Regions from separate parts of the Homo sapiens genome. Here region 1 is linked to region 2. The links come from fine-mapping of genetic effects on plasma protein levels. Region 2 holds a variant in brackets. A gene starts in the other region. All regions are shown on their forward strands.

Region 1 (2,601 bases), not on the chromosome of region 2:
CGACCTCCTCCTTCAGGGCACCCAGCGCCGCCGTCTGCTTCGAGGCTGGAACGACCCCCGCCCCAAAATGCATGCCCCTCGGGTCACTTGGGAGGACTCAGGGGACCCCCTTCCAGCCTCAGGGACCATAGGGCCCCCACGCACTCGAGACTCCATCTCCGGGGTCTCAGAAACTCCCGCCCCTCACGCCCCGGGGGCCCAGGCGCCCGGCTCTGCACACACCGTTTGTCCTCAGCAGGTCGTGGCCGTCAAGCAGCGCCGCGCGCTCCGTGGAGGCTGAGGAGAGAGGCTCCTGCAGGCGAGGCCGGGAACTCGGGAATCCTCCCCTCGCCCGGGGGGTGCAGCGTCCCCCAACTCGGGAGCACGGAGCGGGCGGGCAGGCATACAGCTCACACGATGTGCACACACGCCGATGGGAGACAAACGCGCGGGGACTCGCGCACATACGAGCACGCCATGTGCACACGCGTGAGTGCACACGGCCCAAAGATGTACACACACTCTGCTCACACTCAGACGCGAACAGGACCCCAGGATGCAGCTGGTGCGCCATGCAGTGGGGGTTTTCTGTCCCCAGGGGGGCCGGATGCAACACCTCCCCATTGAGAGTCACTCACCCTTGGACAATAGGATACTCAGAATCACAGCCCAAAGGACTGTGGTGACCAGGACAGCCAGGGCCAAGAAGAGGGGTCTCCTGCTCCAGTGCACCCAGCGTCCCCAGGGCCCTGGCATAACAAGGACGGCATGCTGGGTCCCCCAGAACTGAGCCCTGGAGGCCTGAGTTACTCCCAGGAAACTGAGATTCAGAGAAGTTAAGTAACTTGCCTATGGTCACACAGCTTCTAAGCGGCAGAGTTGGAATTGGACCCTGGTCCAACTGGCTCTATGGCCTGTGGTGTCTCTCCTGCACCCACAACCCTGGCCTGTCTCGACTCTTCCCTCCCCTCCCCCATCAAACCCCAGACACTGGGGCAGGGATGGGGCAGTCTCCTTGCTCATACCTCCGGGGACCTCCTCGGAGCTGCCGCCCCACTTGCTGTACCTGGTGGTGTCCATGGCGATGCAGGCACCCAGTCCTGGGCAGAGATATAAATTTCACGCCTGTTCTCACTGGACCTACGCACTCCCTTCCTTCCTTCCCATTTTCTTGGCCTTAATTCCTGGCAACGGGAACCCATGGACCAATCACAGGATTGGGCCCTTTCAAGGCTGGGCTGGGCTGGGCTGGAGTGAGGCCGGGCGGTTCCAGCCTCCTGGTTCTGGCCACTGCAGCTCCATCCCCAGGCTGGTGCTGGAGGCTTCTCTTTGGAGCTTAGTCACCATCTCTTATGGGCCTGGGGCTGGAGGCTTCTCTTTGGAGCTTAGTCACCATCTCTTATGGGCCTGGGGCTGGGTTTTATCCCGCGAGGGACACACTGAACCCGACCAAATTGTAACCCCTGCTGGCTCCTGAGAAAGCCCCCTCAGGCATAGCCCCCCAGGCCAGTTCAGGTCCCTTCTCAACTCCCCTGCAGGTGCCTGCAGAGGCTGGGTTTGAACCTGACCTTGATCCAGTCCCTCTGTACCAGAAGGGAACAAACAGTTTTGTTAGGGAGGTAGCCGGCGGAGCTGCAGGACTCTACCACTGTATGGGTTCTAGGTAGCTTCTAGAAGCCTTAGTTTTCCCCACTGTAAAGGAGATAGCGATGGGCCTCTCTCACAAAGATGCTATGATAAAGAAACAAGACAGTCTTGCTGGCTCACACCTGTAATCCCAGCACTTTGGGAGGCCGACATGGAAGGATCACTGAGCCCAGGAGTTCCAGACCAGACCAGCCTGGGCAATATAACAAGACCCTCATTTCTGAAAAAAAAAAAAAAATATATATATATATATATATATGAAAACAAAAATTGAAAAAATAAAAAAATAAAGACAATGAGGTTATACATGTCTACCTAGCACCATTTCAGGCATATCAAAAACACTCAGTGTTCATGCATTCTTTCAACAAACATTGAGCACCTGCCATATGCCAGGCATTGATCTTGGAACTGGGGCCACATCAGAGAGTAAAATAAGCAAATTCCTCTCTTCTTGGAGCTAATATTCTAGAAGTGTGGGGAGACAGACTCCATACTCAACGTAATAAACATAATTGAAAACATAAGTTGTATAGCATAGTAGTTCCCAGCTGGGGGCAATTACGCCCACCAGGGGACATTTGGCTATGTCTGGAGACACTTTTGGTTGTCACAGAATGTGTGTGTGTGTGTGTGTGTGTGTGTGTGTGTGCTCCAGGCATCTAGTGGGTAGAGGCCAGGGATGCTGCGCAAAGCCCTACAATGCCTAAGACATCCCCCATAGCAAAGAATGATCTGACTCCTAATGTCCATAGTGCAAAAGGTGGGAACCGTAGTATACTCTATTCAAAAGTCATAAATGCTATGAAAAAACATTAAGGGAAGAAAAAATCCAGTAGGATAAGTACTTGGCAGGACTGGGATGGGCACTAGGCAGTGGGCAGTGGCTAGGGTGGCCAGGGCCAGCCTCACTGACAAGGTGAAATGTTGAGCACTTAATAGAATGTTCCAGCCCCTCTTGTAGATATGTAAACA
Region 2 (5,525 bases):
TTCCAGTTCCCATCTCCCAACCCTGTCCCTTTACACACAAAGGCCGCAGCAAAAGATTTTAAAAACCTATTTTCACGTCCATGCCTTTAAATTATGAATGGAACAAGGACAGTTTTTATTCCAGTCAGAGTTGCCACAGAACACCCCATCATCTATTTTAAATTCCTTGTAAATGAAGGCTGGACACGCTTAACTTTGCAACGTTATGTCTCTCCGGGGCTTTTGTGGCAGCCTTTCCAGTGCTAGCCTTCCCTGATTCTAATACACATAATTTATGCAATGGCAAGTTGCTTTGGTTTCTGTCTGGCTGTGTCTTAATTTGCGTTGATTTTCTTGTTAACAGGCTGCTGTAATGTCTGGCTCTGTATTTCCAGCTTTGCTTTACAATGTATTTTCAGACTTTAATTAGGACCCCTGATGATGAACTGGCCTGAGCCTGCCCAGATAGACTTGGGAGGAAAGAAAGCTTTCCAAATAACAAGGTCATTTTATTGCTTATTAATTAGTCCAACTAAATGGAGACAGTGGCCAGGAGGGGGAAAAAAGGTGACGTGCAGGCCAGTTCATAAAGCTGCATTTTTGGGGGTGGGTACAGCGTCTCCAAAGAATTGCAAATAAAGGAAACGAGATTGTTTCTGAGAGTTAAGCTATGAACTTTAACACACTGTGGGGAAGGAATTGAGCCCTGAAAGCATCCGCTTAAGTGATTACATGAAGAATGAACTGACATGTTTTTTCCAATCAAACCACCTGAGTTTCTCTAAGTTTTGTTTGTTCACCAGATATTGCTGGGGCAGCCCTGCCCCACCAAGGTGCTGTGCTTGGGGCTGGAGTTGCAACTCTAAGCCCCATCTCATGAAACCTACACCCGGCAAAGGAACTCAAAACTGCATCCCGCTGTAGAAATGTACGATAGCTGGCCGGGCGCGGTGGCTCATGCCTATAATCCCAGCACTCTGGGAGGCTGAGGCAGGCGGATCACAAGGTCAAGAGATCGAGACCATCCTGGCCAACCCCATCTCTACTAAAAATACAAAAATTAGCTGGGCATGGTGTTGCGTGCCTGTAGTCCCAGCTACTCAGGAGGCTGAGGCAGGAGAATTGCTTGAACCTGGGAGGCGGAGGTTGCAGTGCGCCAAGATTGTGCCACTGCACTCCAGCCTGGCGATAGAGTGAGACTCCGTCTCAAAAAAATAAAATAAAAAAAAATTAAAAAAAAAAGAAATTAAGATAGCTGTTCCCAAGATGAGGACGTTAACAAGCCCACGGGGAGATTACATTTAGGGCCACTGTTAAAATTGGGCAAGCAGGGATAACATTCAGGCAGTGTGTTTTTGGCACTGACCAGCCATATTAGTCAGCTTGGGTTGCTGTAACAAATACAACAGACTGTATGGCTTAAACAATAAATGTTTATTTCTCACAGTTCTGGAGGCTAAAGTCCAACATCAGGGTACTAGCATGGTCAGGTTTTGGTGAGGGCTCTTTCCTGGCTTGCAGACGGCCCCCTTCTTGCTGTATTCTCACAAGGAGAATACAGTTCAAGACCAGCCTGGTCAACATAGCAAGACCCCATCTCTACAATAATAATAAATTAATAAGAGAGGGCTCTCTCTCTCTCTCTCTCTGATGTTATCATCCTAATTATTGGAAGACATGGAGGGTCTGGGAGGAGAACTGGTTATTTTTTTTTTGGAGTGAACAGATTTCGAATTAACATCTAGTTGGTGCCATATCCTATCAGTGTGACTTATAAATTCTCTCATTTGATCCTTGCAGGGATTTTATAAGATTAGCATTATTATCCTCACTTACATATGAGTAAAATGAAGTTCAGATAGTTTGAGTCACTGCAGACTCTAATTTATAAATTCTAGGTCTGAGAAGTCAATGAAAACTAGGAAAAGGACTCAAATTAACTTGACTTTACCCCAAAGCCATAGACATACTTAATGAGAGAGAGAGAAAGAACCCTCTTATTAATTAATTAATCATTATTATTGTAAAGATGGGCTCTTGCTATGTTGCCGAGGCTGATTTTGAACTCCTGGGCTCAAGCAGTCCTTCCACTTCACCTTCCCAAAATGCTGGGATTATAGGTATGAGGCACCACTCCCAGCCAAGTCCTCTTTTCACAAATGCACTTATCTCATCATGGAAGCTGATGGAACCCTCATAACCTTATCTAAATCTAATTACCACCTAAAGGGCCCATGTCCACATATGGACACACTGGGGATTCGGGTTTCCACATATGAATTTCGGAGGGACACAAACATTCAGTCCATGGAACCAGGCAAGAGGAAATGGTGGCTCAACAGCCTTTGAGTATCCCAGACCCACTGTCAAAGATCAATCCACAGGCTGGGTGCTGTAGCTCATGCCTGTAATCCCAACACTTTGGGAGGCCGAAGCGGGTGGATCACCTGAGGTCAGGAGTTCGAGACCAGCCTGGCCAACATGGCGAAACCCCATCTCTAGTAAAAATACAAAAATTAGCCAGGTGTGGTGGCGGGTGCCTGTAATCCCAGCTATTTGGGAGGCTGAGGCAGGAGAATTGCTTGAAACTGGGAAGTGGAGGTTGCAGTGAGCTGAGATCATGCCACTGCACTCCAGCCTGGTTAACAGAGCAAAACTCCATCAAAAAAAAAAAAAAAAAAAAAGTTAATCTACAGTAGAGAAAAGGCCCTCAAGCTTCACAAAGTAAAGGACTTTTTTGATGCTCCATTTGAATTCTCTTAGCATTAACGAAGTCCACACTCACTAAGGCAAACTTCAGATTCTGATTTCCTGTGTAGCTTGTGCACAGGAAGAAAACATGTTGACCACGCTGACATTCTGGTTCCTGTACCCATCCTTGGAAGTCAGATGGGTC[G/A]TGGGCATTCCTGCCTCTTTCTTGGGCTCACATGGTTTGTGTGGATGTGAGTCAGGCTCTCGGGGCTGGCACCACCAAGCATGACTCTCAGGACCTTCCCAGCCAAAGACTGGCTCCTGTAACACGATGACCTAGTTAATACGATACCTCCTGCGGACCGGCCCAGCTCCAGACAACCTTCCCTCGCGTGGCTGTAGTGGAAAGGGCATAGGAATTTGGGTTGGAAAGGCCTGGGTTCAAATTCTGGCTTTGCCATTTCCTCCCTGTAGGGGTCTGCAGTCTTCAATATGGCACCGTGATGAGACAGGCCTTGGCATAAGATGCACTGAGCTCATACCAGCTATGTAGTCTTGGAAAGCTATTTAAACTCTCTCTGCCTCAGCTTCCTTCTCTGTAGAATGGGAATTTGGATGCCTGTTTTACAGAGTGTTTTAAAAGTTAGAAATATGTGTAACATGAGTAGAGTAGTAGCCACTTGGTACGTGTTAGATATTTTTGTTACTATAAGACAACGCTAATGCCTATTTATACCTTAGGTCTCAGCTTACACTTAACTTCTTTTGGGAAATGCTTTCCCAACACACAGGTATACACACTTGGTGCCCTTTGAGAACATCCTGTGCTTCATGTTTCCCAAATCCTCTTACATAATGAAATTATCCACCTCCCTCACTGACCAGTGAGCAGCTTGAGGGCAGGGATTTGTCTTGTTCATTGATATATCCTGGATCACCTACAGCAGGGGTTCTCAACCCCCAGGCCACTGTACCAGTCCATGACTTGTTAGGAGCTGGGCCCTACAGCAGGAGGTGAGCGGCATGTGAGTGAAGCTTCATCTGTATTTACAGCCACTCCTCATCGCTTGCATTACCGCCTGAGCTCCGCCTCCTGTCAGATCAACAGCGGCATTAGATTCTCACAGGAGTGCGAGCCCTATTGTGAACTGCCCATGTGAGGGATCTAGGTTGCATGTTCCTTATAAGAATCTAATGCCTGATGATCTGTCAGTGGCTCCCATCACCCCCAGATGGGACCATCTAGTTGCAGGAAAACAAGCTCAGGGCTCCCACTTGTTCTACATTATGGTGAGTTGTGTAATTATTTCATTATATATTACAATATAATAATAATAGAAATAAAGTGCACAATAAATGTAATGCATTTGAATCATCTCGAAACCATCCCTCCCAACCCCTGTCTGTGGAAAAACTGTCTTCCATGAAACTGGTCCCTGGTACCAGGAAGGTGGGGGATAGCTGACCTACAGTATAATAGCCAGGACTCTCTGGTTGTAAGTGACGGAAACCCAACTCAATCAACCTAAACACAAAAGAGGCACAGGTGGGGCTCTTGAACTAAGCCCCTGAGAGCCTCCATTTTTTCCTCTGTGCTTCTGAGCCAGTTGGCCCATTCTTTCAAGTTCCTCCATGTGATAGTCAAGGAAGCCCTTACCCTTCTGGGGTTGCCTGCTTATAGCTTGATATTCCAGAGGGGGAGAAAAGAGCTATTTCTCATTCTCTGGTTCAGAAAATTCCAAGTTTAAATTCACAATAGCCCTGCTTGGCTCATGGGTCATGGGCCAGTTCACCAAGGACAGAAGCTTGTGCTAGTTTGATTAGCATGCAGTGGAGTCCCACACTGCATTAGTATCCAGGTGGGACATTACATGGGAAACTATCATTAGGTCTCACCAGGTAGAGTGCAGGACCCGAGCTGCTGTTGGTGGAGAAACAGCGTTCCTGAGGTCTGGAATTATACCCTAGGGCAGTGACAAGACTAGGCAGACATACCTCTGCTCTTGTGGAACTCTAACCTAGATAAGGGAGCCAGCAGCAGCAAGAAGACAAATCCCTGAACAAGATAAAGTCAGATATGATAAGGGTTAGGGACAAACTCGAACAGTGCTGCTGCAGGTGTAGCCGGGTCAGGGAGATCTCCCCAGGAGGCGAAATGAGAGCTGAAGCCCAGCTGACCAGGAGGGGCCAGCCCTGTGGAGACCAGAGCAGAGTGATCAGGACAGAGGGAACACAAAAAGGGCCTGAGGCCAGAGCCAGCTGGAAGTGTTCTAGAAAAAACAACTCAGCCTGGCGCGGTGGCTCACACCTGTAATTCCAGCACTTTTGGAGGCCCAGGTGGATGGATCTTGAGGTCAGGAGTTTGAGACCAGCCTGGCCAAGATGGTGAAACTCCGTCTCTACTCTAAATACAAAAATTAGCCAGGCGTGGTGGCCCATGCCTATAGTCCCAGCTACTTGGGAGGCTGAGGCAGAAGAATCTCTTGAACCTGGGAGGCGGAGGTTGTGGTCAGCCGAGATCGTGCCATTGCACTCCAGCCTGGGTGACAAGAGCGAAACTCCGTCTAAAAAACAAACAAACAAAAAAAGCAGAAAGTAAAAGCAACTCACCTTGTCTGGCTGGAGGGGAGAGAGCTTGGGGAGGAGGGGAGTTGATGCCAAACGGGGTCCAGATCACTGAGGTGGCAAGTTCCCACCTTTCCCGTGTTGTGTCACACCTGGAAACTAATACTTCTTGTGGTGGGTTGGGGTGGGTGGTTGTGCATCAAGCAACAGTCGTCAGCAGCCCCATGAGTCATGTGGAAGGAGTGGCCAGAGAAAGAGTGGATGCTCTACAGCAAAACACAACTGATGGT

Which allele goes with the higher level. Positions count from the first base shown, and alleles are read on the strand shown. Strength reflects both the effect of a copy and how common the allele is.
For the plasma level of the protein whose gene starts at base 1,067 in region 1, G is the high allele of the variant in region 2 and A is the other (weak association).

The links. A credible set is the group of variants that fine-mapping cannot tell apart. PIP is the posterior inclusion probability: the model's chance that the variant is causal. Protein levels are from antibody-based Olink assays in UK Biobank. Linkage for the fine-mapping came from a reference panel and not from the study's own genotypes, which makes the PIPs less certain.
Region 1: CLEC4G starts here. The variant in region 2 is the best candidate, but not a certain one, in a credible set for the plasma level of the CLEC4G protein (UK Biobank, PIP 0.50).

The regions. Positions count from the first base shown.
Region 1 is chr19:7,731,044-7,733,644 of GRCh38, forward strand. CLEC4G (C-type lectin domain family 4 member G) reads right to left here and starts at 1,067. Exons shown (of 9, transcript NM_198492.4): 1 at 1,005-1,067; 2 at 618-728; 3 at 223-276; 4 at 1-45. The coding sequence starts at 1,059. RefSeq lists promoters at 1,062-1,668, 1,062-1,374, 1,062-1,325 and a cis regulatory region at 1,132-1,141.
Region 2 is chr17:68,321,429-68,326,953 of GRCh38, forward strand. All of the region lies in intron 2 of ARSG (arylsulfatase G), which reads left to right. Among named protein-coding and RNA genes, the nearest start is that of ARSG, 33 kb to the left of the region's middle. The variant G/A (reference allele first, on the strand shown) is at 2,876.